Linked DNA regions of Homo sapiens: regions 1 and 3 are each linked to region 2. The links come from fine-mapping of genetic effects on gene expression. A gene starts in region 2. Each other region holds a variant in brackets. All regions are shown on one strand. Distances are between the middles of the regions.

Region 1 (10,300 bases), 43 kb before region 2:
TGGGCAGTCTGAGTTTGGCTTGGGCCAGCAGAGCCCCCGGGTGCTCCAGCCCAACTTTGGCCATGCTGCCTAAGAGCGTCTTGCTAAACAGACGGCCTGGAGTCCTAGACCCTTGTGGGAACTGGAGCCTGTGCCAGCCTGGGGGCCCGGATCTCCTTCCTCCCAGTGCGGGGCCTAATCACTCATGGTCAGCAGGAGGCCTGCAGAGGGAGAGACGAGATTGGCCCTCCAATCCCTGCCTCTGGGAAAGGTGGCTGGGGCCAGGTTCTGGAGAAAGGACCTGGAGCTTCCAGGAAAGTTTAGGAAGCAGAGGGGGGACCCCTTGCCCTGCCAATTCAGACCACTCTCACGAGTTGGGGCCAGAATAATTAAGCGGCTTCCTCTGGCGCCTACTCTGAGGGGTCGGTAATGATGTCCAGCACTGTGATGAGGAGGATTCTGAGGCACCGTCCATGATTGAAGGAAGGAGCTCCTTGGAGATGTTGCCACCTTCGCCACAGTAGAGGACGGGTAGTGTGCAGATGTCTGCCACCCTGGAGGTAGGGTCTCTCCTTCCCCCAAGTTCTATGCATGATCTCAAGTATAGAGGGGTGGGGAGGTGTTATCAGGAGAATGATTCATAGTATTGCTCTCATTACGGTACAGCTCCCAGTCATGGAGCACCCACTTTCAGCCAGGCACTTCATAGATGCTGCCCTGTAGTAATCCTGAAATGCTAAGAGAATCGGCAAGGGCACGCATCTTGCCGATCTCTGAACATTTGCTTAATGGGGGCTGGGCATCATGATCCCATTTTACAGCTGGAACAACTGAGACTCCAAGCACCTGCCAAGGCCCCACGCTGGTAGGAGTGGGCCCCAAACCTGGGTGCCCTCTCGAAGGTACCCTCAAAGCCAGGGCCTGGCCTCCCGCTGCCTCTCCTAAGCCCCCACTCCAGGCCTGAGCTCCCCTGCTGATGGGGGGCAGGGGACACGCCATCTGTCTGCAGAGGCAGGGGTGCCACTGGGGGGGACATGCCACCCCCACAGGCAGTGGACGGGGCCTCCCTGCATCCGTTACTTGCCCCCTGCCCAGACTCTGCCCACCGCACAGCAGTGATAGATAGTTTGTGAAATACCCTGAGCTTGCGGTTGACCAGAATTCTGAAATAATTCCATTGAGACCGGAATTCATGCAATGTTCTGTATCCTGATGTGGTAAAGCAGGCTGCCCGCGGGGGCGCAAGGGGATGTGAAGGCCTGGGGATGGTGAGGCAGCCTCCAGGCCCTGCAGCAGGGGCTTCTGCCACCCCCCCTCGCCCACGGGCTCCGGAAGGCCCATCTGACAGGAGCAGGGCCCTGATAAGCACCACCTGACCAGGAGGCCCCCGGCAGAGAGATTAATGCACAAATTGTCAACAACCTCCCCATGCTGTACCCCCGCAGAGGAGCAGGGCGGGGGGGCACTGGGAAAGGAAGGACAGAGGAGGCCTCACCCGGAGAGAGGCAAAAGGACAGCTCAGCCCGGCCTTGCCCTGCGGCCTCAGCCTGGCTGCCCCACCTGCGCCAGCCGGGCTCTGGACACCTGGAGGGGGAAGAGGCCAAGGTGTGAAGGCAGGCTTGTATCATGGGCCAGTCTGATGCCCAGGCAGGTCCTGGCTGTGCAGGAGGGTGGGAGGGAGCTGCTGCCTGCTGAGCCTCCTCAGCCTGGAAGCTCCCCAAAGCCAGAGCTGACTCCAAACCTCCTGGCCCAGAACCCTGCGCTCCAGTCCCTGGCCCTGCCAGCCCCCAAGGTGGCTTCCCTGGAGGAAGACATGTGTTTCTCCTTGGCGAGCACTTCTCTCAGTGCTGCAGAGTGTCCCTGTGTTTCTGCAGCCAGGCAGGACTGGACTTGGCAGAGCACAGCAGGACTGCAGGAGGAGGCTGGGGGTTGCTCTGGGGTCATCATATTCAGGACCACACACGGTCGACAGGCTCAGGCCAGTGAAGTTCCCTCTCCTCATGGGACAACCAGAAGCTCAGGGGCAGCCTGGTGGGTTTTCTATAAAGCAAAATGCAGCCATTGAAAGGGCTGTCCTGGGTTCTGCCATTAGGAACTTCCTATTTCTTAGGTGGGGGAAACTTTTCTCTAAAGCAATGAGGGTACCAGCAAATCAGAGACATAAACTGAGGGCCACTGGCATACGGAGCTTGCTGCATGGGTTACCAGGTTTTTATTTTCTTTAAGTCCATTCTTTCAGGCTGTATTTCCAGCTTTGCTTTGGAAGCTCTGGCCACTCTGAGCCCACATTCCTTCGTGGCCCTATGCCTGGAGCTGAGCAGGGGCCACCCTGAAACAGGCCCACCCACTTCCCACCCCTGCTCCTCTCTGCAGTGAACAGAACAGTGAGGATCCAGAGTGTGAACCCCATGGACCGGGAGGAGTATGTGTCCCACAGGACAGCACTGGGGTTCACGCTTCTGCAGAGTCCCCAGCCTGGGGTCCGTCTCAATCATTCTCCCACCTCTGCTGGGAAACTCAGCTGCTGCAGTCACTTGTCATGGACTATTTTCATGCAGGTCCATCTTCCTCATTAGGTTGCCAAGGACATGGGACACAGGCTTAGGGGCCCCGGGGTTCGGGGACAAGGAGTGAGGTGAGGCTGCACAGACCTGAGTGCTCAGTTGAACCCTCTGAACCTTTTCAAGAGATCTGGAAAATTCTACTGTTCTTTTTTTTTTTTTTAAGAGGCGGTTTTGCTCTGTTGCCCAGGCTAGAGTGCAGTGGTACAAACATAGCTCACTGTAACCTCGACCTCCTGGGCTCAAGCAATTGCACCTTGGCCTCACAAATAGCTGGAACTACAGGCATATACCGCATGCCTGGCTAATTATTAAAATTTTTTGTAGAGATGAGGTCTCCCTCTGTTGGCCAGGCTGAACTCCTGGGCTCAAGCGATCCTCCCACCTCGGCCTCCCAAAGGTCTGGGATTATAGGCATGAACCTCTGTGCCAGATGGGAAAATTATATTTTTTAAGTAATATCTCTCAGGTTTTAAATGTTGAAAATGAATTCATCTTTCAGTAATGATAATAATATTCTATAAGGAAAAGAAAATACATCTGCCAGCTAGGAGATGGCAGCCTCCAATTAGGAGCAAGGAGGTTCACCAGATCCCATGCTATCTGGTCAGTTGGTGTCAGGAGGGAATAAAACTATCCCATGCAAAATTTTCTGATCATCTTTTCCAGCCCGGCCCAGGACTGATTCCAGCACCTACCTAAGTCAGATCCTAGCCAGTCCTCAGGGAACTAGGTATGGAGCAGTGGACAGAGAAGGATAATTAAAGCAATATAGTGTGACATCCTGTAAATGAATGGAGACTTTCCAGAGGAATTCACAAGAAATTGCTAACACTGTGTTTCTCTGGAAGAGAAGCTGGTAGGAAGCCGGAGATTCTGCTTGCCTCTGTATACCCTTCTGATCTGTCTGGATCCTTAGTATGAGCATGTGTTAACTCTTACAATTGGGATTTTTTTTTTTTTTTTTTTGAGATAAGGGCTCACTCTGTCACTCAGGCTGGAGTGCAGTGGTGTGATCTCAGCTCACTGCAACCTCAACCTCCTAGGCTCAAGTAATCCTCCCACTTCAGTCCCCTGAGTAGCTGAGACTACAAGTACTCGACTCCGTGCCCAGCTAATTTTTACATTTTTAGTACAGATGGGGTTTCATCATGTTCGGCAGGCTGGCCTCGAACTCCTGAGCTTGAGCGATCTGCCCACCTCAGCTTCCCAAAGTGCTCGGATTACAGGCATGAGCCACCACGCCTGGCCTTTTACAATTTTTAAAATCTCTCTTTGTTGTTACAAACAGGGTCTTGCTACGTCACCCAGGCTTGCCTCAGACTCCTGAGCTAGAGCGATCCTCCCTCCTCAGCCTCCCAAGTAGCTGGGACTATAGGCCCATACCACTTTTACAATTTTTAAAACACAGAAACATTTTGTAATGAATCTGGATATAAACAGATGTGGTGATACCATCACAACATTGTAACCCCAGTGCACAGAGACCCCAGCAAGGCAGTAACCATGTCTATGAGAGGGAGAAGGAAAGTAGCACTTAAGCTTTCCCAGGAGTAACCCTGGGGGTGGGTTTTAGAGAATGAATAGGAGTTTTTCAGCGGGGCGCGGGGGCTCACACCTGTAATCCCAGCACTTTGGGAGGCCGAGGCAGGCAGATCACGAGGTCAGGAGATCGAGACCATCCTGGCTAACACGGTGAAACCCCGTCTCTACTAAAAACACAAAAAATTAGCCGGGCGTGGTGGCGGGTGCCTGTAGTCCCAGCTACTCGGGAGGCTGAGGCAGGAGAATGGTGTGAACCCAGGAGGTGGAGCTTGCAGTTAGCCGAGATCGTGCCACTGCACTCCAGCCTGGGCTACAGAGCCAGACTCCATCT[CA/C]AAAAAAAAGAGAATGAATAGGAGTTTTTCCAGGCAGACAAGAAGGAACACTTCGAAGACCCAGGACACCAGTAGCTGTGGGGATCACTGGGGAAGGTTTTGTGGCATTTGTGGAGGTGTTAAGCCTTGAAGGAGGGGAGAATCGGAGTGAGACGGGGGTTAGGGTAGGGAGTGTAGCACAGGCATGGACACAGCACAATGCCAGGGACAGTGGGATCTGGCTGCAGCTCCAGGAAGGCCATCTCCCTGATGTCAGGGAGGGGTGAAGACCTAGGTTCAAGTCCAGGTTCTCCCAATTACTTGGCGTGAAGCCTTGAATTTGCCCTATCCATGCCCCGTTCGCTCACCTGCTAAAGCAGGGATGTGTAGCAGGGCGTAATGGCGCACGCCTGTAGTCCCAGCTACTCAGAAGGCCGAGGCAGGAGGATGGCTTGAGCCCAGGAGTTTGAGGCCACTCTGACCAACATAGCCAAACCACATTTCTAAATAAGTAAATGGAAGCGTGGAAGTTGTGCCCTACTGAGAGTGTGTATGAGAAGCACCTGAGAACCACAGCTAATGAACTGCCCACAGGCTGTGAGGAGTTTGCACCGGTCCTCATTGCCTTGCTCAGGGTCAGCCCAGGAGAGGGGCCGCCCCACCCAACGCTGCCACACAGGCTGGGAAAAGCCATGGCTCTCCAACGGGCATCCACACTCCCGGCTAAGCAAAGGCTCTGCAAAGCTGGGGCCAGACAGCCACTCAGTGTCTGCTGTTTCCTCTGGCCCTGAATCGCAGGCCGCGCTGGATGGCTCTGGTGCCAAAGGGTGGCCTCTGAACAGGAACCTCGGCCTGGGAATGTCCCTGGGACCCCACAGGACCTGACCCGGAGCCACCACTAGAAGCCGGAGCTCCCAGGCCAGGGCTGCGGGAATGGCCCCGGGTCCTCTGCCCAGGGCCTGCAGGTGCTCCAGGTCAGCGGGCGACTTTGGCCGCTGCAGAGACCGAGATACGCGGGGTAACAGCCCGTTCCGGAGCCGGTCATCAGGCGCCAAGCCCCGCTGGGCTCCTCGCAGCCGCGGGACCTTTCTCCGCCCTTCCCGAGGCTGAGTTTCCTGAACGGGAAGCTGCCGGCCCGCGGGGCAGCCGGGAGCAGCCAGGGCGTGAGGACGTGGGTTCCCGTCACCCCCGGCTTGGAACAGCAGCGCCGCAACAACCGCTGGCGTTCATCGAGCCTCTCAGCAGCCCTGCGAGGCGATCCCGGGGAGAATCCCACGCCACAGCCGAGGAAACTGAGGCAGGCAGGGTGACACACAGCCCAGTAGTGGCGGGCGGGCGCCCAGGCTGCCACCGCGCTGAGGACCGGCCCCTCTGCCAGCCGGGAGGTGCGCGTGGCCTAGGCGGGGGCGCCCTCTGGCGGCCGCGGGTTCCAATCCCTGCCGGCCTCGCAGGCGTGGGGCAGGACAGCCGCGCTCTCGCCAGGGCCCAGAGCCCCACTTTGCCAAGGAGCTGTCGCTGGAGCGGTGACTTTGTTCAGGGCCGAGAACCGGAGGAGGAGGCCAGACTTGCTGCTGGGCAGCTGGCACATGGGACATGGGGTGTTATGACTCCAGCATTTATGGAGCGCCTGCTGTGTGCTCTGCAGGTATAGTCCCATGACCACCCCCCGAGCATGGGGTTATCTCATTCTTTTTTTTGGGGGCGGGGGGGACGGAGTCTCTCTCTGTCGCCCAGGCTGGAGTGCAGCAGCGCGATCTCGGCTCACTGCAACCTCCGCCTCCCAGGTTCAAGCGACTCTCCTGCCTCAGCCTCCTGAGTAGCTGGGATTACAGGTAGGCACCACCACGCTAATTTTTGTATTTTTAGTAGAGGTTTCACCATGTTGGTCAGGCTGGTCTCGAACTCCTAACCTCATGATCCACCTCCCTCAGCCTCCCAAAGGGGTTATCTCATGCTATGGATGAGGCCCTGAGGCTCAGAGACCCGTCTGACTCTAAAGCCACCCATTAGGACTGACCCCAGACAGCCCCTTAATAGCCACTGGGTTCCACTGTGGCCAGGGGAGTGTGGCATGAGGCAAAAGGGACCATTTCCCCTCTGAAACATGAGCTGAACTAGATCAGTGTTTTGCCAGCATTCAGGTCCACCTTGCAGCATGTGCAGGACGCACCTATCACCCGTGTTCATATTCACATCCTAACGCCAGGCCTACACAGTACTGACCATGGGCACCACCTGACCGCTGTCAGCTTATTTGAGGATCACACCAACAACCACGCTCTTGTTAGAAATTAATATGACCCCGTTTTATGAATGGAAAATGGAGGCTCAGAGCAGCTGAGCACCTTTCCACAGTCACACAGCCAGGTGGCGTCAAATCCAGCAACCCAACCCTGGCCACCGGCTCCCGGCCTCTGCGAGGTGGAGCTTCCAGCTAATCCAGCTCCACTCTGCTCAAGCCATTTTTCTTTTTTTTTTTTTTAAAGAAATGAGGTTCACTATGTTGCCTCGACTAGTCTTGGTTCCGGTACTCAAGCTGAGTATGGGAATTAAAAGCATGAGCCACCACCCAGGCCTATATTCTTTTTTACAATTTATCCCTAAACGAAACTTTGTATCTCTGACATAAGTGGAAAATCACTTTCACATGGCTAAATACAGGTAGCTGTAAAAATCAAATACAATTTATGGCCAGTGCTGTGGCTCACACGTGTAATCCCAGCACTTTGGGACGCTGAGGCGGAAGGGCCACTCGAGCCCAGGAGTTTGAGACCAGCCTGGGCAGCATAGTGAGACTTCATCTCTTAAAAAAGAAAAAAATAAATCAAATACAATTTACATCAAATAAAGTGATCCAGTTCTGACCAGAGAGAATGGTCAGCAGAGAGTCTGGCATTCTAGACAGGGTTCCATTTCCATTGAAGAGGTTTCTGTGTTACAAGCAAGTGAACTGGTGGGACACTGCCTGGTTTTCTCCTGAATCCCACCCCACTGCGGCACAGATCTCACTCCCCATACCCCAGCAGCACCTCCTCCCAATCCCCAGCCTCTCCACTGCAACATGAAGCATGGAAGAAAGATGAAGGTGTGTGTGTCACTCGCTGTAGAGTGCTGAGAGACGCAGGGAAGACAGAGGCATAGGTGTCCGTAATTGGGGTGCAGGTGGTGAGACACGGGGAAGATGGTGGTGTGGGTGTCCATCTCTGCTGTGAGGTAGAGGGCAGACCCCATGTAGATCTAGGGTCATGAGTTAGCCTTGATATATGAGTGGTGACTTACATGACAACTGAAACCAGTGCCATGGTCTGAATGCATTTATCCCCCCAAAATGTACCTGTTGATGTCCTAATTCCATAGTGATGGTATCAGGATGTGGGGCCTTTTGGGGGTGACTAGGCCATGAAGGAGGAGTGCTCATAATTGGGCTCCAAGCCCTGATAGCAGAGCACTGGCTCGGCACGCCAACTTCTGCCTGCGAGGACACAGTGAGGACACCGGCAGGCTGCATCCCGGAAGACAGCCCTCTGCAGAGCCCGCCCCTGCTGCCACTCTCATCTTGGAGTTACCACCCTCCTGAACTGTGAAAAAGGAATGTGTGTTGTTCTAAGTACCCCGATTGTTGTTATTTGTTATCACAACCTGAACAGACTAAGACAGGCAGCATGAGCATGTGCTCTTGATCGACATGGACACAGATAAATGAAAACCCACCACACATTCCCCAGGGTGTACACACACCTGTCCCCATGCGTCTCACACAAGATGCGCTGGAGGTAGGAAAGGGGAGGGAAATTGGGGCTGGGAAGCAGGAAGACGCAGCGAGCCCAGAGGGCATGGTGCCCTGATCTGATGAAAAAGATAAAAATAGAACGAACTAGAATCAAATGCCCCGCATAGGGCCCGGCCAATTCTAACCCTCAAGCCCCCCACACCCAGCTGTGGACCCTGGGACAGCCACTGTATTATCTGCGCCTCTGCCTGTCCACTGGGGGCCCTGCGGGCAGGACTGCTGTGTTGCCTCTGTGCCTGGCCCATGGATGTCTGACTATGGGTCTCTGTAAACACGGGGGCAATGTCCCCAGTCCCTCAGAGCAGCCACACCAGATGGGCCTTCCAGACTGGCTCTGTCAAGACCTGAAATTCCCAAGTCCTTAAAAGGCTGCAAATCCTCCCCCCACTCCACAAAGACAACACACAAATAAATCATAACTGCTGTGTCCTAAGCACATCGTGTGTGCCTGGATTTTACACACATATTTGTCATCTTCACAACGTAAGTAATATTTGGTCCATTCTTTGAATGGGGAAACAGGCAGAAAGAACTTAAATGACTTGCCTCAAAGTTACCCAGCTGGCACAAGCAGGGTTCAGGTCCAGCTAGGCCTGATCCCACCTTCTGCCCTCTTCTGACAGCCCCAGGCTGCCTCCCACCACACACAACACACACACACATGCATGCACACACACATGCACTTGCACAGCCACATGACATGTGCAAGGACACACACATATACATATACACAGACACACACATGCATACACAGAGACACACAGACACACACACACATGGGTCACAGCCCAAAATAACACCTTCCTGGAGCTAACGCCTCTCCTTCCCCCTCACCCCGAGTGTGTATGGATTCCTCCAGCCCAAGCCTCCCTCCCCAAATCACCCCTCTCTAGCCCTGTCAGATTCAGAAGGATCTCCTCCTCAGGTCAGCCTCCATCTCTGACAAATCCCCCCACCCCATCCTCTGGTCCTGCTCCCCCAGGGCTCCCAGCACCTGGCCCAGTGGACCAGCTGCAGGCCACACCTCTCTACTGGTGGAGAGGGAAACCCTGGGCTCTCGGGTAGAGCTGCGGGTGCTGGTGGTGGGTGGCCATGCCTTCGTCCATGTCCATCCAACATGCACTCCCTGTGTGCCTGGACCCCACTCCCTCTCCTCCAGGCCTTTGTGCCATGCACAAGCTCCAGGCCTGGGGCCCCATCCTGATGGAGAGAAGTGGTCAGGAAAGTGGGCAGGCCTCAGGGCTTCAAGCCAGGCCCCAAGAGGCAGAGGGGAGAGTGACAGGACCTGGAGCTGAGACTTAGGAACGTGACAGGTGGCCAGTGTGGTGGCTCATGCCTGTAATTCCAGCACTTTGAGAGGCTGAGGTGGGTGGATCGCTTAAGCCCAGGAGTTCAAGACCAGCCTGGACGATATAGCAAGACCCCATTTCTACTATTTAAAAAATATGTATATAATTTTTTTTCTTTTTTTTTCCAGAGTCTCGCTCTGTCGCCCAGGCTGGAGTGCAGTGGTGCAATCTCAGCTCGCTGCAACCTCCACCTCCTGCGTTCAATCGATTCTCCTGCCTCAGCCTCCCAAGTAGCTGGGACTATAGGCGCATGCCACCACGCCCACTAATTTTTGTATTTTTAGTAGAGACAGGGTTTCACCATGTTAGCCAGGATGGTTTCGATCTCCTGACCTCGTGATCCGCCCGCCTGGTCCTCTCAAAGTGCTGGGATTACAGGCGTGAGCCACCACACCTAGCCTATATTTAAATTTTTTTAAAGAAAACAGACAGGTGCTCTCCAGAGCAGCAGCGCGTGGTAGCACAGAGCGGCAGGGTGCACTCACCGTGTGAGCACACCACGCAGAGTGTTTCTGCACGCACGTGTGCCCCAGAGCAGCCTGTGTGCCTCTGCATGCCTCTGGGAGTCTGTGCACTTGTGCATGAAGGGGAGAGTCTGTGAGAAAGGATGGGTAGTGCAGAAGGCGAGAACACAGGCTCTGAGACCGGCACGCCAGGCTCACATGCTGTGCAAGTTCCCTCACTGGTGACAGTGGCAGCCAGAGCCGCACCTGGCAGAGCGTGAACGGGCTCCTTATCATTTCCACTCTGCAGGCATCTCTGTGG
Region 2 (10,161 bases):
CACACATACACAAAAAGATTACACTTCCAAATATACTTCCCAAAGGCCTCTTTCTTGATGCTTTTCTCATTTACATTCAAATAAGCATACTCAAAGAAATGTATTTAGTGATGTAATAGAAAAGTCTCAGGGCTGGGCGCAGTGGCTCACACCTGTAATCCCAGCACTTTGGGAGGCCAAGGTGGGCGGATCACGAGGTCAGGAGTTCAAGACCAGTCTGGCCAATATAGTGAAACCCCATCTCTACTAAAAAAACAAAAAATTAGCCGGGTGTGGTGGCGTGTGGAGGCTGAGGCAGGAGAATTTCGTGAATCTGGGAGACGGAGGTTGCAGTGAGCTGAGATCGTGCCATTGCACTCCAGCCTGGTCGACAGAGTGAGACTCCGTCTCAAAAAAAAAAAAAAAAAAAAAAGTCTCATGGGTTTTTATTTTTGTAGAGACAAGATCTCCCTATGTTGCCCAGACTGGTTTCGAACTCTTGGGCTCAAGCGATCCTCCCACAGATTACAGGCACGAGATACCACGCCCAGCCTAAAACTGTTTCTTCACTAATATAAAAGTTAAAACTGGGCAGGCATGGTGGCTCACGCCTGTAATCCCAGCACTCTGACAGGCAGAGGAGGGGTGCGGATCACCTGAGGTCAGGAGTTCGAGACCAGCCTGGCCAATATAGTGAAACTTCATCTCTACTAAAAAATACAACAATTAGCTGGGCGTGGTGGCAGGTGCCTGTAATCCAGCTACTTGGGAGGCTGAGGCAGGAGAATTGCTTGAACCCAGGAGGTGGAGGCTGCAGTGAGCCATGACCATGCCACTGCACTCCAGCCTGGGCGACAAGAGTGAAACTCCATCTCATAAAAAAAAAAGTTGGCCGGGTGCGGTGGCTCACACCTGTAATCCCAGCATTTTGAGAGGCCAATCACCTGAGGTCAGGAGTTTGAGAGCAGCTGGCCAACATGGTGAAACCCCATCTCTACTAAAAATAAAAAAATTAGCTGGGTGTGGTGGCAGGCACCTTTAAGGCCAGCTACTTGGGAGGCTGAGGCAGGAGAATCACTTGAACCTGGGAGGCAGAGGTTGCAGTGAGCTGAGATCGTGCCACTGCACTCCAGCCTGGGCAACAGAGTGGGACTTCCTCTCAAAAAAAAAAAAAAATGGTTAACAGTGGCAAAATACCCTTGGGGAGGAGCCAATGACCACTGTTTGGGGTACCCTCACAGCAACAAGATACATAACCAGGAAAAGGATGTTCACTCCAGCAGGCTGCAGGGGTTTTCTGAGAAAGAGTAGTTATCTCCAATCATAAGACTGTGGAGCAGACTGCAAGGGAGAAGGGTATACATATCCCACTGATCTCTCTGCCAACCCACCCTCAACTGAAAAAAACAAAAATTAGACTATCTTTTAGGACTGAAGTAGTGATTCCCAGTAAGATACAAAAAGCTGTATTGGAGAACTTTTAAAATATATCAAAAAGCCTAAAAACAATCATACAATCATCCTCAATAAAGCTGTACAGTCTAATACAAACAAGTTTCATTACTTTGACTAGAATCTTATCACAGTGGGAATATTCCAGCCAGGCCAAGTGCAGTGGCTCACACCTGTAATCCCAACACTTTGGGAGGACTGCTTGAGGCTAGGTGTTGAAGACCAGCCTGGGCAACACAGCAAGACCCCATCTCTGAAAAAACAAAAAATTGCTCTTAATTAGCCAGGCGTAGTGGTGCGCACATGTAGTCCTAGCTACTCAGGGGGCTAGGTGGGAGGATAGCTTGAGCCCAGAAATTCGAGGCTGCAGTGAGCTCTGACTGGGCCACTGTGCTCTACCCTGGGGAACAGATTGAGAACTTGCCTCAAGAAAAAAAAAAAAAAAAGGAACATTCTAGTATATGTGTGTGTATCAGGAACTCTCATTGTGTTCAGTTATACAGACTTATTTGTTTTATTGAAAAATATTGTTACTTAATAAAATATTAGCATGCCAAAATATTTCAGATACAGGATCCAAAAGAGAGGAAAAATCATTAGATGGGTCCTTGGTGGTAAAAAGAGAAGCAACCACTGGCTCCTAGTCAGTAACCACCATGGTCCCTTCTGCTAGCTCCTAAAATTCTACAAGGGTTTGAAAATAACCCACTGAAGGCCAGGAATGGTGGCTCACGCCTGCAATCCCAGCACTTTGGGAGGCCGAGGCAGGTAGATCACCTGAGGTCAGGAGTTCGAGAGCAGCCTGACCAATATGATGAAACCCTGTCTCTACTAAAAATACAAAAATTGGCCGGGCGCAGTGGCTCACACCTGTAATCTCAGCACTTTGGGAGGCCGAGGTGGGCGGATCATGAGGTCAAGAGATCAAGACCATCCTGGCCAACATGCGTGAAACCCTGTCTCTACAAAAAAAATACAACAATTAGCTGGGCGTGGCAGCACGCGCCTGTAGTCCCAGCTACTCCGGAGGCTGAGGCAGGAGAATCACTTGAACCTGGGAGGCAGAGGTTGCAGTGAGCCGAGATTGCACCACCGCACTCCAGCCTGGCGACAGAGCAAGACTCTGCATCAAAAAAAAAATACAAAAATTAGCCAGGCGTGGTGGCATGCACCTGTAATCCCAGTTACTCCAGAGGAGAGACAGGAGAATTGCTTGAACCCAGGAGGCAGAGGTTGCAGTGAGCCAAGATAGCGCCATTGCACTCCAGCATGGGCAACGAGAGTGAAACTCCGTCTCAAAAAAAAAAAGAAAAAGAAAAGAACCCACTGAAAAACATTTCAGCAACCTCATCAGTTTCCAACACAACTGTTGGAAAATATACATCTCCTTGTTAAGTTTATCATCCAGTTGTTTCCCACTGGGATAGGAGTACAAAATAGCACATATATCCATTTAACTGGTGTCTTGGACTACAAAATTGAAAATGATTTTAAATAAATCTGTTAATGTGACTGCAAGTCTTATACCCAATACAATCCTATCTCACAGCCATAAAAGCCAGAAGAGGCAACATTATACAGTGTGAGAACACACAACTTACGGAATAAGCTGGAGCCCTGACTTACTCTGCACTGTAAGACCGCATGTAAGGGGCTAAATAACTTAACCTGACAGACTACAGCCTCCTTGCCTGCTATATGAGGATTTATACCTTAAATGGTTGCTATGAGGGCTAAATGAGAATATATTTAAAATACCCACCATAATATCTGACACACAGTAGAGTCCCAGTAAGAAAGTATCTTACCACAGAAACAAACAAACTAAAGGACAAAAGGAAACTTCTGGAGGTGACAGATATGTTTATTACCCGGATTGTGGTAATGGTTACACCAGTGTATACGTATTTTGAATATACTAATAATAGGCAGTTTTTTGTATACCAATTATACCTCAATAAAGTTGGGAGAAAAAATAAAAACAAGATAAAATAAGTACATTAACCTAGCTCGCAGGCATGATGGCAGGATAGCCGAGCTCCTGCTGTGGTCCACTTATACTGTAACAAGCTCATTAAATCACAACTGGCTTCTATAAAGAACGGGATTTAACATTCAAGACATTCAAAGATGGCAAGGCAAATTTACATGAAGTTTTGATCTATCTTTCCACAAGCCTTTGAGTAAAACTTTATTTCATCATGGACAACGCATGAAAGAAAATAGGAGTCATTTCAGAAACGTAATCTCTATAAACCCATCTTTATAGCTCCATATTCAGTCAGAGAACGAAGTGTGCTTAGAAGAAATGTGACACTATAATGACTATTCTCTCAACAAATAATTAGGTAATCATTTAATGAAATTGTTTAACAACAATAGTAATAAAAACCAAACCTCTGTGTATGTACATTCCCTTTACTCCCAAACCCAACATTTTCTTTGGTGATCACTGAAATACCTGGAAACATTTAAGCCAAACACAGCCATTTATTGCCGAGGTGTAAGAATGAGAAGCAGCAGGGGGAAGGGAGAAAATTGGACTTTCCTTTTCTGTACAGCATAAGAGAACTTATATTACGTGCAGGAGTTTTAAAACTAACTTTAAAAAGAGTTTTAACATTTAGAAAGCGTTCACTAGGAACCTTAAAATGCATCACATTCATAGGGATTTCAAGTGATTACCAACTTAAAAATGCGAAACCTGTTACATTTCTGATGGTTCTCTATGTCTAGAAAGAAGCACCTACAACGGACCAGATACTGAATTAAGAGAATGAAATTCACTTTAATTCATTTATTTGTCCTCTACTTGAGCCACCTCGTCGGGCCGTGAGAAATGAAGTCTGGCGCCCGCTGGCACCGGGCCGAGGGGCTGCCGCGCTCGCCTTACGGAAGGGAGGTGCGTTCTACCGGCCCGAGGTCTCCCGAGCGGTGCCGAGAACGGCCCAAACAGGGGCAAGCTCCGAGGCTGGTCGGCCGCGGATCCCAGCAGCTGCCCACGTGAGCAGCGACCCGCGCGGGGGCAGGCCGGTGCTGACGTGGCCCAGGCAGGAGGGCGGGCGCGCACCGGGGGCAGCGGAGGCGCCGGGGCCCCTGGCCACCCAGGACTCCTCGCGGGCCCCGAGGCAATCCCACGGACCCCCTGTGCCCCGCCCGCCGCCCGGGTCTCCGCATTTCCTGAGGCCTAGAGGGGCGCGGGCGGAGTCGGGGGACCGCCAGGAAGGGAGGCGGGAAGGGTCCCGGGAGCGGCGGCGAGGGGTCGCCCACACTCACCTGCACGCCCAGGTGCGCCAGCCGGGCCTCGAGCTCAGGCTCCAAAGCCAGCAGGAAAGAGGTAGCTCGGGACGTGGAGCCGCCGCCCAGGTGCGCCAGGACCACCTCGGCCGTCACCTTAGCCAGGTGGCTGCTTAGGTCCACTGTGCGCTTCACGTCCTCATTGATCAGCGGCGGTGCCTCGGAGGAGGCGCTGCCCGGCGCCGGGGCCCAAGTCCCAAGCAACAGGAGCAGAAACAAGCCGGCGGCTGGCGCCTCCATGACCGGGAAGAGCAGTGCGCCAGGGCGGGTAGGGCCCGGGCGCGGTAGCCCGCCCTCCCGCCACTGAGCAGCCGTTCATTGGGCAAGGGCTGGTGACACAAGATGGCGGCGCCGAACAAGGAAGGACCCTGTCTCCGGGGCAACCGGGAAGCCGACCCGGCGCCTGATTGCTAAAGCCCTCTCAGAGCTGCTCGGGATATCCTTCTGTTCGTAGTGCGAGTGTACTTACTTTTTTTTTTTTTTTTTTTTTTTTTTTTTTTTTTTTTTGAGACGGAGTCTCGCTCTGTCGCCCAGGCTGGAGTGCAGTGGCACGATCTCAGCTCACTGCAAGCTCCGCCTCCCGGGTTCACACCATTCTCCTGCCTCAGCCTCCCGGGTGGCTGGGACTACAGGCGCCCGCCACCACGCCCGGCTAATTTTTTTTTATATTTTTAGTAGAGATGGGGTTTCACTGTGGCCTCCATCTCCTGACCTCGTGATCCGCCCACCTCGGCCTCCCGAAGTGCTGGATTACAAGCGTGAGCCACTGCGCCCAGCCGCGAGTGTACTTATTATTACTAGTTTTCACTTACCTAATTTTTACAGGAGCGGCCCTTGCCTAGGTCTCTACTCTCTCCTACCATTCTTCCTGTCCAATAATTCTGCTCGTTTTGCTCCTTAAAACAGTGAAATTTTGCTCAGATTGAGAAAGTAAAAGTTGGCCTTCCCCAACATCCACGGATGAATGCTAAAATTAGTAGGCAGAACTTGAAGCCGAAACAGGATATATGCAAAGTTTCAAAACATCTCTACTAAAATGTTTAGTAATTAGGCCGGGCACGGTGACTCACGCCTGTAATTCCAGCGCTTTAGGAGGCCGAGGCGGGTGGATCACCTGAGGTCAGGAGTTCGAGACCAGCCTGGCCAACATGGTGAAACCCCGTCTATACTAAAGATACAAAAAATTAGCCGGGCGTGGTGGCAGGCGCCTGTAATTCCAGCTACTTGGGGTGGCTGAGGCAGGAGAATCGCTTGAACCTGGGAGGCGGAGGTTGCAGTGAGCTAAGATCGCGCCATTGCACTCCAGCCTAGGCGACAGGGTGAGACTCCTTCTCAAAATAAATAAATAAATAAATAAAATAAAATTAGCCGGGTGTGGTGGTGCGTGCCTGTAATCCCAGCTACTCCAGAGGCTGAGGTACCAGAATCATTTGAACCCGGGAGGCAGGAGATGCAGTGAGCCAAGATCGTGCCACTGCACTCCAGCCTGGGCGACTGGGCGAGACTCCCTCTCAAAAGGAAATTAAAAAATAAAAATAAAATGTTTAGTAATTACAAAGGAAAAAATAGTTTACAGTGGAGAATCCTGGCAGGCACCACTTTAAACAAGTGATCAAAGTTAACATCACCACATATAAAATATAGTAACATTAGGTATCTACTAATAGGATCCATTGAGAAAGGCACATCACTTCTGTGGTATTGCCACAAAATTATTGAAAATCCATTACCTCAATCTAGTCATAAATATCAGACAAGGCCAGGCACAGTGGCTCATGCCACCAATCCCAGCACTTTGGGAGGCCAAGTAGGGAGGATCCCTTGAGCCAAGGAGTTCAAAACTAGACCGGGCAACAGGGTAAAACCCCATCTCTACAAAAAATCAAAAATCAGCCGGGCCTGGTGACAAGTGCCTGTGTTACAGGAAAGGGGTCTGGATCCTGACCCCAAGAGAGGGTTCCTGGATCTCACGCAAGAAAGAATTCAGGATGAGTCCGCAGTGCAAAGTGAAAGCAAGTTTATTATTTTTTATTTTATTTATTTATTTATTTGAGATGGAGTCTCGCTCTGTTGCCCAGGCTGGATTGCAGTGGCGCAGTCTTGGCTCACAGCAACCTGTGCCTCCCGGGTTCAAGCAATTCTCTGCCTTAGCCTCCCAAGTAGCTGCGATTACAGGCGCCCGCCACCACGCCCGGCTAATTTTTGTATTTTTAGTAGAGACGGGGTTTCAACATCTTGGCCAGGCTGGTCTTGCACTCCTGACCTCGTGACCCACCTGCCTCAGCCTCCCAAAGTGCTGGGATTACAGGCATGAGCCACCGCCCCCAGCCAGCAAGTTTATTAAGAAAGTAAAAGAATAAAAGAATGGCTACTCCATTGACAGAGCAGCCCGAGGACTGCTGGTTGCCCATCTTTATGGTTATTTCTTGATGATATGCTATACAAGGGGTGGATTATTCATGCCTCCCCTTTTTAGACCATATAGGATAACTTCCTGATGTTGCCATGGCATTTGCAAACTGTCATGGCGCTGGTGGGAGTGTAGTAGTGAGGACTCATTGCCATTTTGGTTTTGGTGGGTTTTGGCCGGCTCCTTTACCGCAACCTGTTTTATCAGTAAGGTCTTTATGACCAGTATTTTGTGCCGACCTTCTATCTCATCCTGTTGAGAGGTGACAGCGTGCGCCCTCCCTCGCTCTCGGCGCCTCCTCGGCCTTGGCGCCCACTCTGGCCGCGCTTGAGGAGCCCTTCAGCCCACCGCTGCACTGTGGGAGCCCCCTTCTGGGCTGGCCAAGGCCGGAGCCGGCTCCTTCAGCTTGCAGGGAGGTGTGGAGGGAGAGGCGCGAGCGGGAACCGAGGCTGCGCACGGCGCTTGCGGGCCAGCTGGAGTTCTGGGTGGGCCTGGGCTTGGCGGGCCCCGCACTCGGAGCGGCCGGCCGGCCGGCCCTGCCAGCCCTGGGCAATGAGGGGCTTAGCACCCCGGCCAGCGGCTGCGGAGGGTGTGCTGGGTCCCCCAGCAGTGCCGGCCCACGGGCGCTGCACTCGATTTCTCGCCGGGCCTTAGCTGCCTCCCCGCAGGGCAGGGCTCGGGACCTGCAGCCCGCCATGCCTGAGCCTCCCCCTCCTCCGTGGGCTGCTGTGCGGCCCCAGCCTCCCCGACGAGCGCCGCCCCCTGCTCCAAGGCGCCCAGTCCCATCGACCACGCAAGGGCTGAGGAGTGCGGGCGCACGGCCGGGGACTGGCAGGCAGCTCCCCCTGCCGCCCGGGTGCAGGATTCACTGGGTGAAGCCAGCTGGGCTCCTGAGACTGTTGGGGACTTGGAGAATCTTTATGTCTAGCTAAGGGATTGTAAATACACCAATCGGCAGTCTGTATCTAGCTCAAGGTTTGTAAACACACCAATCAGCACCCTGTGTCTAGCTCAGGGTTTGTGAATGCACCAGTTGACACTCTGTATCTAACTACTCTGGTGGGGACTTGGAGAACCTTTGTGTGGACACTCTGTATCTAGCTAATCTAGTGGGGACGTGGAGAACCTTTGTGTCTAGCTCAGGGATTATAAAGACACCAATCAGCACACTGTCAAAACAGACCTCTCCCCTCTCTGTAAAATGAACCAATCAGCAGGATGTGGGTAGGGCCAGATAAGAAAATAAAGGCAGGCTGCCAGAGCCAGCAGTGGCAACCCGCTGGGGTCTCCTTCCACACTGGAGAGTTTGTTCTTTCGCTCTTGGCAATAAATCTTGCTGCTGTTCACTCTTTGGGTCCACGCTGCCTTTATGAGCTGTAACACACACCACGAAGGTCTGCAGCTTCACTCCTGAAGCCAGCGAGACCACAAACCTACCGGGAGGAACGAACAACTCCAGACGCGCCTCCTTAAGAGCTGTTAACACTCACCGCGAAGGTCCTCCGCTTCACTCCCGAGCCAGCGAGACCACGAACCCCACCAGAAGGAAGAAACTCCGAACACATCCAAACATCAGAAGGAGCAAACTCCAGACACGCCACCTTTAAGAACTGTAACACTCACCGCAAGGGTCTGCGGTTTCATTCTTGAAGTCAGTGAGACCAAGAACCCACCAATTCCCAACACGCTGTGACTTAAAATGCCTTAACTGTATGGGAATGCAGCTCACAGGTTTCAACCTCGTTTTACCCAGTTCCTATTCAGGATGGAGTTGTTGTCGTTCACATGCCTCTGACACCTGTAGTCTCCGCTACTTGAGAGGCTGAAGCAGGAGGATCACTGGAGCCCCGGAGATCAAGGCTTCAGTAAGCTATGTTCATGCCGCTTCAGCCTGGGTGACAGCAAGACCCTGTCTCAAAAAACAAAACAAGGCTGGGCATGGTGGCTCATGCTTGTAATCACAGCACTTTGGAAGGCCAAGGCAGGAGGATTGCTTGACCCCAAGGAGTTTGAGACCAGTCTGGACAACATAGCAACATTCTATCTTTACAAAAAATATTTTAAATTAGCCTAGTGTGGTGGCATGCCCCTGTAGTCCCAGCTACTCAAGAGGCTGAAGTGGGAGGATCACTTGGGCCTGGGAGGTTGTAGCTGCAGTGAGCTGTGATCATGACACTGCACTCCACCCTGGATGACAAAGTGAGACTTTGTCTCAAAAAAAAAAAAAAAAGAAAAAAGAAGGCCGGACGCCATGGCTCACGCCTGTAATCCCAAAACTTTGGGAGGCTGTGGCAGGCAGATCACCTGAGGTCAGGAGTTCAAGACCAGCCAGGCCAACATGGTGAAACCCCGTGTCTACTAAAAATACAAAAAATTAGCCAGGTATGGTGGCACACACCTGTAATTCCAGCTACCTGGGAGGTTGAGGCCGGAGAATCATTTGAACCCAGGAGACAGAAGTTGCAGTGAGCCAAGATCATGCCACTGCACTCCAGCCTGGGTGACAGAGCAAGACTCCATCTCAAAAAAATAGTAATAATAAAAAAAATAGATAAAATCAGACAAACCAAAATTGAAGAAAATTCTACAAAATAACCGACTCTTCAAATATTAATCCTTCTTACCTCCATGTCTCCTCATAGGTTGTATGTGCACCTGATTTTCCTTGTGGGAAAGGAGAACACCAAGGTTCCCTCCATTTCTTCCCCATTGATGACTTCCAGAGTGACTGGGGTGTTGCAAGTCTCAGTAAAAAGCTCTAGAAAAGTGTTTCCACATAGTCAAGTAAACGTGAGAAATACCACACTGCACATCAGCAGATTAGCGAAACCTCCTTATTCCCTAATTTTGGAAATATAGAACTAACCAGATATCACAGGAAACAAAAATACTGAGCCCACCAAATGCACATGGAAGAATGTTCAGAACAGTTCCTTCACACTCCAAATTTCTGTTATTATCTATATTAGTCAAAACTCAGCCAGGCACAGTGGTTCGCACCTGTAATCCCAGCACCTTGGGAG
Region 3 (10,295 bases), 28 kb before region 2:
GTATGCAGCCGCGGTAAAGCAGGGCCCCTCCGTGAGGCACAGCCGCCCGGGGGTTCCCTAGGGGAAGCAGGGGCTGCGGCAGACGCCTCTCGGGCAGGTCAGGGTATGCACCCTCCCGCAGGGGCTCCCAAGGCCGGGCGTGCGTGAGGCCAGGTCCACGGGCACACCACTGTGAACACTGATTAAACGTGGCCTCCACGGCTTCCAACCCCCAGGACAGGACCAACCCTCTGCCCCCGGCTCAGGCCAGAGCTCGGCGAGACCGTCGCTGTTTAACAAGCATTTGCTATACGCCACCTTGCATTATGACAGCATGTGACCCACACAGCCATCCTAGGAAGCAGGTAACAGCCCTACTCCATTTTGCACGGAAAGACTTGCCTGAGGTCACAGAGAGCGGCAGGCCTGGGATTTCCATCCAGGGATCCGACTGCAGAGCACGACTCTGGAGGGTCTTCCTTCTTGCTCCTCCCATCCTTCCACTGTCCTTGGATCCCCCATTTTCCCCCTGCACAATCTCCTAATCCCTATGTTCAACTTCTCATTTTCAACTGGATCTTTCCCAATGGCATTCAACACACTTGGTGTCCCCAACCTTAGAGTAGAACATTCAAGCAGCACAGCCTCCTGAAGGCCCTCACTCATCCCTTTCCCAGCCTGTTTGCGAAATGCTTTGTCAGGACTCAAAGTTAAGTCTCACTTCCGTCCAATTCCCATCCCCACACCAACACAGTTCTCAAGTCACCAATGGGTAAAAGGCTTCAGTGATCCACTCCTACAGCCAAAAGGCACTGCTCGGTCTCTTCAGCCTCAGATGGTTCACTCCTGGAAACATTTTTCCACTTGGCTTCATGACACCACAGTCCTGGTCTTTCTCGTCCCAGGTAAGGAGAGTCCTGGTCTTTGTCAACCCAGGTGGCCACTATTACTTTGTCGTCTTAATATTCAGTTCTGGATCTCTTCTTATTCTATACCCTTCCTAGGCACTGTCCCCTCCCACAGCCTCCTTCTCACCTTTTCCATAACCATGTCTAGGCCCGGCAGCCCCACATTTACCACTTGCACACCAGACCTTATAATTCCAGGCCTGAATATCCACCTGCCCAGGGACACTCCCACTTGGATGTCCCGAGCACCTCCATTTTGCCATGTCTGAAACAGAATTCAGCATCAGTTCCTCACAACTGGTCTTCTACAGACTTCCCCAGTAATCCCTCAACCCACCTGCCAATATTTAAGCTGTTTGTAAGCCACTCATGCAAACATTCAATAACCCAACTACGTGTCATAGATTGGTCTGAACACCTAGCTGTTAACATAAAGATGAGCATAAAAGACAAAACCCCTGCCCTATTGAAGCTAGTTCAGTAATCACACACATTCCAACCGTGGTATATGAGGTGGAGAAGAGGTACAAAGGAAAACGAGAGGGTACCACAGGACTTGACTGAGTGTGGCAGGCCACGGATGGCTCCCTGACACAGTAACCTTAAGTAACACATCCTGAGGCTGAGCAGGAATTCATTAGGTGGAGACAGGGAGCGAACTCCTGCAGAGAGGAAAGAGGGGCAGAAAGCCTGGCACTCACTGGCACTGTCGATTCCCCACATGACCTTTCAATCCCTTGCCTCTTGAGAGGAACCATCTCTGCTTTGCTCATCACTGTTTCCTTGATGCTGAGTAAAACATGACTCACAGGAAGGATGCAAAAACTACAAAAATGGAGGCCTCACTCCACTACTCCATTCTGTGACATAAGCCACGTCAACTCTTTCAACACTCTGGCACCACTTTCAACACTCTGGTACTAGAATAACTCAGTGTTCTAATATGTAAAATGTAAATGCTTGCCTTGCAAACCTGCTGAGAAGCAAATCCATTATTTAATGAATAAAAAGCACTTGATAAAAGCACTATTCCCAAAATTAAGAATTAAATTATGAGAGATCTTCAACAGACCAAAAACAAATGTTCACAGTCCCTGCTTTATTTCCATTTGTTCACACACGCTTTAAAAAAAAAAAAAAAAACACATGCACTCACACAATACCCAAACATCAGAATTAGAAGGGCATAAAACAGGGGGCTTTATAGGCTGAAAAATATCTTAGACTTCAGAACAGAATACCAATCAAATATTGAAAATTCCTTTGTTCAAAACACAAAGATGTTTTGTTTTTAATGGGAGTTTTTTTAAAGTTTTCTTTTTTTAAAAAAAAAAAAAAAGAAAGTTAAGGACAAACGGCAAACTCACACTGCCTGACGCAGGGCCTGGTTTCTCTTCCTTGAAGGCCTTTTACAGATGTCAGCTTTCACTGGCCTCCATGCACAACCTCCCACTACCACCCAATCTGCCTGCCACAGCAAAGTGCAGGCACCCTGGGCCCCCTGGAGGATGCGGGCAGGGGCTACAGGGCATCCAGGATGTGGTCGATCTTGGTGACCAGCTCCTGGCGCTTTCCTGAGATGAGCTTCTCATTCTCAATGTACGTGTCTTTCTTGAGCTTGCCAGCCACCAGGCGCTCAGCCTCCACCGCCGACTTCAGCACCAGCTCCTTGACCTGTGCATCCAGCTTCTGCATTTCGCTCACCTGGCCGAGGCAAGAGCAGGGCAGGACTTGTGAGCTGTCCTCCCACCCCACTCAGCAGGCCCCACCATCTCCCAGGCCTACAGACCCCAGAGCTCCACAGGTATCAGCCACAAATGCAGCCAACAGCACAGTGTCCCAGGGCAGCAGGGCTGGCTATGGAGGAAGATAGGCCTGGCTTCAAATGCCAACTTCACCACCCACAAGCCCCGTTCTTACGCCCTTGTGAACAAGCCCTGCACCATCCCTGGGCCTCATCTCCATTCTAGGACTCTGAGGACTGAGTATGAAACTACTTGGCAGCACCTATCATGCCCCTGGCACATAGCAGCTCCTCTATGAACATCACTTCTCTCCTTGCAGCTTGTCAAATCAGTTCCAGGGATTCAATTAGGCAAAAGATCAATGGCAAGGGAAGGGGGGGTGACAGGCATTGTCACCTACTGTACGTCACATTGAGGACTGGTATAGTCACATTCATTCAACATTCAACAAATGTTTAGTGAGCCATGGCGCGCGGCACAATTCTAGGTTCCAGAAAACAGCACTAAGGACAGATAAGGGATCTTGTCCACAGATGCTGACATATAATTAACACTTAAGTAGAAGAATAAATCGTTTCAGAAAGTGGTAGGCGTGGGCCAGACACGGTGGCTCACATCTGTAATTCCAGTACTTTGGAGGCCAAGGCAGGCAGAACACTTGGGCTCAGGAGTTCAAGACCAGCCTGGGCAACATGGCGAAACCCCATCTCTACAAAAAATTAGCCAGGCATGGTGGTGTGCACCTGTGATCCCAGCTACTTGAGGTGGAAGGATCGCTTGAGCCTGGAGGTGGGGCTTGCAGTGAGCAGAGATTGCGCCACTACACTCCAGCATGGGCGACAGAGTGAAACCCTGTCTCAAAAACAAACAACAAAAAAAGTGGTAGGTGCTATGAGGAAATTCACACAGAGTGAGGAGAGGGAATGCCAGGGAGTGGACAGGGGAGTCAGTGACTCTGAGGGGCACCTCTGCGAAAAGGTTACTGTCCTCATTTACAGATAACTCCTTTACATAGCTTGTATCAGGACAGGGTTCTGAATATTTTGCATGCATTAACTCATTTCACACTCAGAACCCCTATGAGGGGCTAACAGCATTCCCATTTTATAGATGAGGAAACTGAGGCACAGAAGTTAGGTGACTTGGCCAGGTTTACAAACTCTGAATCAGAGCCTGGATTCAAACCTATTGATTCTAAAGTCTAGGTTCATTTTACCACAACATAAGCAGCCTGGGACCTAGAACAGTCTGGCCTCCAGGAGAGGATGCAGCTACTCTCAATACTGGCCACAAGGGCACGCAGTGCTGACGAGGCTAGCAGAGCTTCCTCCACACCCAGCTCACACCAGGACCCCAAAAATCCCTTTTTCCTCCACAAGGACTGGCACCACATGAAAAGTTATGGCCAGATGCAGTCTTATCCCACAAGCATGCAGGTAAGCAAGAGAGCTGCCCAGTGTCTGCCCTAGACAAAGCAGTGAGGCATGGAGGGCCCCAAGCCAAGCAACTCTGTGACGCCCGACACTTACTCTGTCGCACAGATCAGAGCCCTCTGTCTTCAGCCTGGACTGCAGCAGTGCAATCTCACTGGTCAAGGCCTTGTGTTCAGTCTCCAGGCTCTTCTTGCCACTGTTGAGGGTGGAGATGTCCCGGGATTGCTTGTACCTATTGACGGTCTCGTCAAAGTGACGGTAAAGGCCTATTCTCTTGTTGACCAGGGTCAAGACCTGCTCTGTGATGCAGGCTACCTTCATCCTGGCTTCTGCGGCTGGATCCTGAAGGAAGGAGAGGCACCATGTGTGACAACATCCAGGCTTGGGTCCACTCTGACCTTATCTCCCAAAGAACATCTGCCACCAGCAGCCATCCAAAAATGAAATGCCACCTTCTTGGAAAGTCAAAGTCAAACCCCTACTGATACCTAATCTGGACCAGGTTCAGCAATGGGCAAAACTAGGGCCATAAAGATGAGCAGACCAGCCGGGCCTGGTGGCTCACGCCTGTAATCCCAGCACTTTGGGAGGCCAAGGTGGGCAGATCACGAGGTCAGGAGTTCAAGACCAGCCTGACCAATATGGTGACATCCCATCTCTACTAAAAATAGAAAAAAAAATTAGCCGGGCATGGTGGCAGGCACCTGTAATCTCAGCTACTCAGGAGGCTGAGGCAGGAGAATCACCTGAACCCAGGAGGCGGAGGTTGCAGTGAGCCGAGATCGCACCACTGCACTCCAGCCTGGGCGACAGAGCGAAACTCCATCTCAAAAAAAAAAAAAAAAAGATGAAGCAGACATTTCACTTCACAGTCCAGTAAGGCAGACAGATAGATGTGAACAAGGATGATAATGTCAGTGTGCCCTGCATATATATTACAGCAGTCTTGCCCATTTAATCAGCAGGAAACATTAGATAAACCAAAATTAAGGGACATTCTATAAAACTGGTCTCTACAACACCACAAATGTCAAGGTTATTAAACACAAAGAAAGGACCAGGAATGGTGGGTCACACCTATAATCCCCACACTTTGGGCAGCTGAGGCAGGAGGATCACTTGAGGTCAGGCGTTCAAGACCAGCCTGGGTAACATAATGAGACTCCGTCTCTACAAAAAAATATTTTGGCCAGGTGCAGTGGCTCACACCTGTAATCCCAACATTGTAGAAGGCCGAGGCAGGCAGATTGCTTGAGTCCAGGAGTTCGAGACCAGCCTAGCCAACATGGCAAAACCCCATCTCTAATAAAAATACAGAAAATTAGCCGGGCATGGTGGTGCATGCTTGTAGTCCCAGCTACTCAGGGAGCTGAGATGGTAGGATCTCTTTAGCCCAGGAGGTCGAGGCTGCAGTGAGCCCTGATCGTGCCACTGCACTCCAGCCTGGGTAACAGAGTGAGACTCTGTCTCGAGAAAAAAAACATTTTTTTAATTAGCTGGGCATGATGGTATGCTCCTGTAGTCCCAAACTACTTGGGAGGATGAGGTGGGAGGATGGCTTGAGCCCAGGAGTTTGAGGCTGCAGTGAGCTGTGATTGATCGGGGGACAGTCAGCAAAATTATGGACTGGATGTTGGTCAACAGTACTAATTAACTGGCCAGTTAATAGTATTAACTAACTAATGGACAATTACATTACCCATTCTTTGAGGAAGAAGGCACAGAAGGCAGAACACACCACAAAGTTCTGAACGTGCTGTTCTACCAGATTTTTGGCAACATTACATTTCCTGAATTTGATCATTGTATTATGATTATGTAAGAGAATACCCTTGCTCTCAGGCTACACACATGCTCAACTATTCAAGGGTAAAGGGGCACAACGTCTGCAACTTAACCTCCAATGATTCAGCAGAAATAATTACACACACACACACGCACACACACACACACACAGTTATTCCTCGAGCCCCCGCCCCCCCGCATCTCCGACTATCTGCACATACTCAAGTCCTGTAGTCAGCCCTGTGAAACCCAAGTATACAAAAAGTCAGCCCTCCACATATTTGGTTTCAGTTCCCTCAAACACTGTATTGAGTACTGTATTTCCTATCTGCATTTGATTATAAAAATCTGACCAGGCACGGTGTCTCATGCCTGTAATCCCAGCACTTTGGGAGGCCGAGGCGGGTGGATCACGAGGTCAGGAGATTGAGACCATCCTAACACGGTGAAACCCCGTCTCTACTAAAAATACAAAAAATTAGCCGGGCGTGGTGGCACGTACCTGTAGTCCCAGCTATTCGAGAGGCCAAGGCAGGAGAATTGCTCGAACCCAGGAGGCGGAGGTTGCAGCAAGCTGAGAGCGCACCACTGCACTCCAGCCTGGGCAACAGAGCAAGACTCCGTCTCAGGAAAAAAAAAAAAGAAAACGAAAAGAAAAAAATCTGCATATAAGTGGACCCACACAGTTCGGCTGGATCAACATCTTTGCTCACAGGTCCTACCAAAACCCCTCCCTGCTGTCTCACAAACATCAGCCCCTCCAACTGAATGCCCTTCCCCACCTTCTTTGCCTGTCACCTCCTCAGGGTAGCCTTGGGGCCTCCCAAGTTGCCCCACTAGAAGCACACCCTTGGTGCGCACCTGTGGTCCCAGCTACACAGGAGGCTGAGGCAGAATCGCTCGAACCCGGGAGGCAGAGGTTGCAGTGAATGGAGATCGC[G/A]CCACTGCACTCCAGCATGGCAACAGAGCGAGACTCCATCTCAAAAAAAAAAACACACGCTGTGCCTGTCATCACATTCCACAGTCCTCAAGCACCAGCTGTGCTCATCTCCTCCACCAGGCCTCACCCACCTGACTACAATAAGTGCCTGGTACTAGTGCCTACCCTGGGGCATGGAGCCAAGAGCCCTAAGGAACAATGAGAGAATGAGAAATGGAGGAAGGAAGGAAGAAAAGAGCAAGAGGATGACCTGAGGATAACAGCAGTGCAGCCTGGGGAGGACCAAGGAGCCACGGAGCCTGTCAGGGAGCAGAGAGTGGGAGTGGGGAGAACGGTGCTGACAGGGCCAGGTCAGTGGTTTCTGCTCCCAACAAGGAATCACCAAGGGGGAGGTGGGGAGGGAGAGGGGACTAAGAGGGGACTTCCACCTCCAAGTTCCACTGAATAACAAGAAGCAAAACAGCTAAATAAGCACCAATCTTTTCATGTTTTTCCTACCTCAACTGAGCATCCAAGTTACTCTGTCTCCAGAGCCAAAGCAAGACAGAAGCAGGGACTTAACCTCCTGTGCTAGTGACCACAAGCAACAAAAACAAAGTACCCTTCCGGCAAGGATGAGCACAGGCAGGGGTCTTTTGGCCATGGCGTCCTGCCCTGGGCTCACTGTGAGGATCAGTGCTCAAGCTGGTGAAATATTACCAAGGACACAAATGACAAGCAGGAAGAAGGCAGAGACGGTACCTTGGTGATGGAGAAGTCCAGCCGAACATAGATGATAACGGTGAAGAACAGGATGTAGAAGGCCGCCACCACCAGCAGGGGCTCCTGCAGCATGAGCACCTTGTTGAACGTGTAGTGGACCTGGGAGAAGCAAGAGGACAGGCTTCATCGGGGCTGTAGGGACATGGGAGCCTAGACTCACCCAGGCTGGCCCACTCGACCTGCTGCCCCACCCCAAGACCAGAAGACGCCATGAGCTCAAATGACTCCAGCCCAAGGAGGGACAGAAGGTGAGTTCTTGGCCCCCAGAGCCCACTGTCTGGGGAAGACGCCATGGAAGGCAAACAGTGGAGCCACTCACCACAATGTCCTGAATGTGCTGTTCTACCAGATTTTTCTTGTAGGCAACAATCACAGGGCGGCCAAATGTGTCCAGATAGGTGTAGTGCAGCTCATCTGGGGCACGGCTGATTTCATAGGGACTATCAATTTCAATGTTCCTGGAAGAAGATGGGAATAAAATATAGCCTCCAACCAACTACATCAATAAACCAGATTTAGGATCAGAGAATTCCAAGGCTAAGGAGCCTTTCAAGATCACTAAATTCACACTCCTCCACTCTGCTCCCTTCTCAGCTATGGAGAACACCCACTCTCTTGAGACAGGGGAGCCAGTGCCAGAAAGCCCTTTGTTTTAAAGCCCTTGTCTGCTGGGGCAACAACTGTCCCTCTGAATCCTCCACTCCCAAGTTCTCACCAGTACTGGCCCCACTCCTTGGAGTCACAAAGTTGACACAGCTCTCCTGTACATCCTACCCAGTGAATCCCTGGGAGGCTTGAACAGATGCCTCACGAGCTGTTCTGAATGTTCTTTCTCTTCACATGAATAAGAGCTTCTTACGGGGCAGGGGACATGTCCTGCTTTTGTCTGCCCAGGCCCACTGTCCCTTCTCCTGGTAAACAGCACAGCCTGGATTTGCATGAGGAACTACTCTTCCACTATGGAACATTCTCCACAGGAAGAAAATCAAGGGGTCTCTCATTCTGGCAGTCAGAGTGGACATGTGACTCAAGAGAGGCCAAGTAGATGTTCCCTGATAAAGTAAATCTAGAGAAAAGTGACACAAAGACTGTGCCCCTAGAACATAGGCTCTCCTTAGGGTACCACAAGGGTACAACCAGAGAAATCGGGTGCAAAGGAGAGGAACAGTCACACTCACTTGGCTCCTTCAGGCAGGATGATCTTCACAGTCAGAGAATCTATCACTTGTTCATCAAACACATGGTCCACAAACCTCATCTTCAGTGCATACTGGTCACCTGAAGGATCAAGCAAGCATAAGCAATGATGTGGAAAACGGATCAAATGGGCAGGAGAGAAAGAAGTACAGGGGCTCACATAAAGACAGAGCAAGTAGACAGCAAAACCAAAAACCCACGGACCATGTTTACAACAAAACCAGGCAACAAAGTATCTCTACTGAACCCCACAACACAGAGACAGGGATGGGGGTCAAAACACCGACAGCCACAAGACCTTCACGTTATCAGTGTCTGTGAAGGAGAACGCAGAGAGAAGAAACAGGGCAACTGATGGGCTTGAGAACAGCAGAACCCCAAAACACACAACCGGGATTCCCTAGAGAGCACAGCAGGCCAGTGTGAGGAGTGGCTGAAACTCGGAGCAGTTGTGCCCTGCCTAATGGTGAGTGAAACGGGCCTGCAGAAGGTCTACGAGTCTGCAGCAGTCTAGTCCCTGAGAGCAGAACTCCCCTTCTGGGACAGTGCCCTACAGTGAGGAGAAACTGCTCAACACAATCAAAAATGAACATGATAGGGACAATGGAACTCAAAAACCGCACAGAGGAAAGCTCAGAAAGCAAGCCACATGTTTTTGCACTAAAATAGCAGAGATCTGGGAAGGTACAAAAGCCACTCTAAACCATCCCTCCTTCGGAAAGGTCACATTAAAAATGATCAACAGACAGTGGCTCATGCCTGTAATCCCAGTACTTTGGGAGGCAGAGGCAGGCAGATCACCTGAGGTCAGGAGTTCAAGACCAGCCTGGCCAACATGGTGAAACCCCATCTCTACTAAAACTATAAAAATTAGTCAGGTGTGGTGGCACATGCCTGTAATCCCAGCAACTTGGGAAGCTGAGGTAAGAAAATCACTGGAACCCAGGAGGTGGAGGTTGCAGTAAGCTGAGATTGTGCCACCGTACTCCAGCCTGGGAAACAGTGCAAGACTCCATCTCAAAAAAAAAAAAAAAAAAGATTAAGTTATATAAGAAAAATGGGATGAAAACAAGAACACCCCTGTAAGAAAATGAAAACATGCCAGCAAGACGCCCATAAAAACGAACCAGGAGACTGCTCCTGCTATTCCAAAACAAGCTAAAGGTATTAATAAAATCATGTAAGTCATGCAAGAACAATGTAAACAATAATTAGAAAAATTCAGGCCGGGCGCGGTGGCTCACTCCTGTAATCCCAGCACTTTGGAAGGCTGAGGTGGGTGGATCACCTGAGGTCAGGAGTTCGAGACCAGCCTGGCCAACATAGTGAAACCCCATCTCTACTAAAAATAAAAAATTAGCTGGGCGTAGTGGTGCATGCCTGTAGTCCCAGCTACTCCAGAAGCTGAGGCAGGAGAATCTCTTGAACCCAGGAGGCGGAGGTTGCAATGAGCTGAGATCGCGCCAATGCACTCCAGCCTGGGAGGTTACAGTGAACTGAGATCGCTCCACTGCACTCCAGCCTGGGCAACAAAGTGAGACAGAAA

The links.
Region 1: its variant is fine-mapped to the expression of RPN1 in blood mononuclear cells (TOPMed, PIP 0.94).
Region 3: its variant is fine-mapped to the expression of RPN1 in whole blood (TOPMed, PIP above 0.99).

The regions. Positions count from the first base shown.
Region 1 is chr3:128,602,720-128,613,019 of GRCh38, forward strand. No RefSeq gene overlaps it. Among named protein-coding and RNA genes, the nearest start is that of LINC01565, 32 kb to the left of the region's middle. RefSeq lists enhancers at 89-588, 5,909-6,088 and a silencer at 5,699-5,898. The variant CA/C (reference allele first, on the strand shown) is at 4,417.
Region 2 is chr3:128,645,833-128,655,993 of GRCh38, forward strand. RPN1 (ribophorin I) reads right to left here and starts at 4,986. Exons shown (of 10, transcript NM_002950.4): 1 at 4,708-4,986. The coding sequence starts at 4,968. RefSeq lists enhancers at 1-97, 4,210-4,279, 4,950-5,219, 5,380-5,459 and a silencer at 4,430-4,699.
Region 3 is chr3:128,618,003-128,628,297 of GRCh38, forward strand. It overlaps RPN1 (ribophorin I), which reads right to left. Exons shown (of 10, transcript NM_002950.4): 6 at 8,731-8,830; 7 at 7,872-8,010; 8 at 7,532-7,651; 9 at 4,162-4,407; 10 at 1,967-2,591. The coding sequence ends at 2,409. Among named protein-coding and RNA genes, the nearest start is that of RPN1, 28 kb to the right of the region's middle. RefSeq lists enhancers at 1-107, 1-412, 128-177. The variant G/A (reference allele first, on the strand shown) is at 6,791.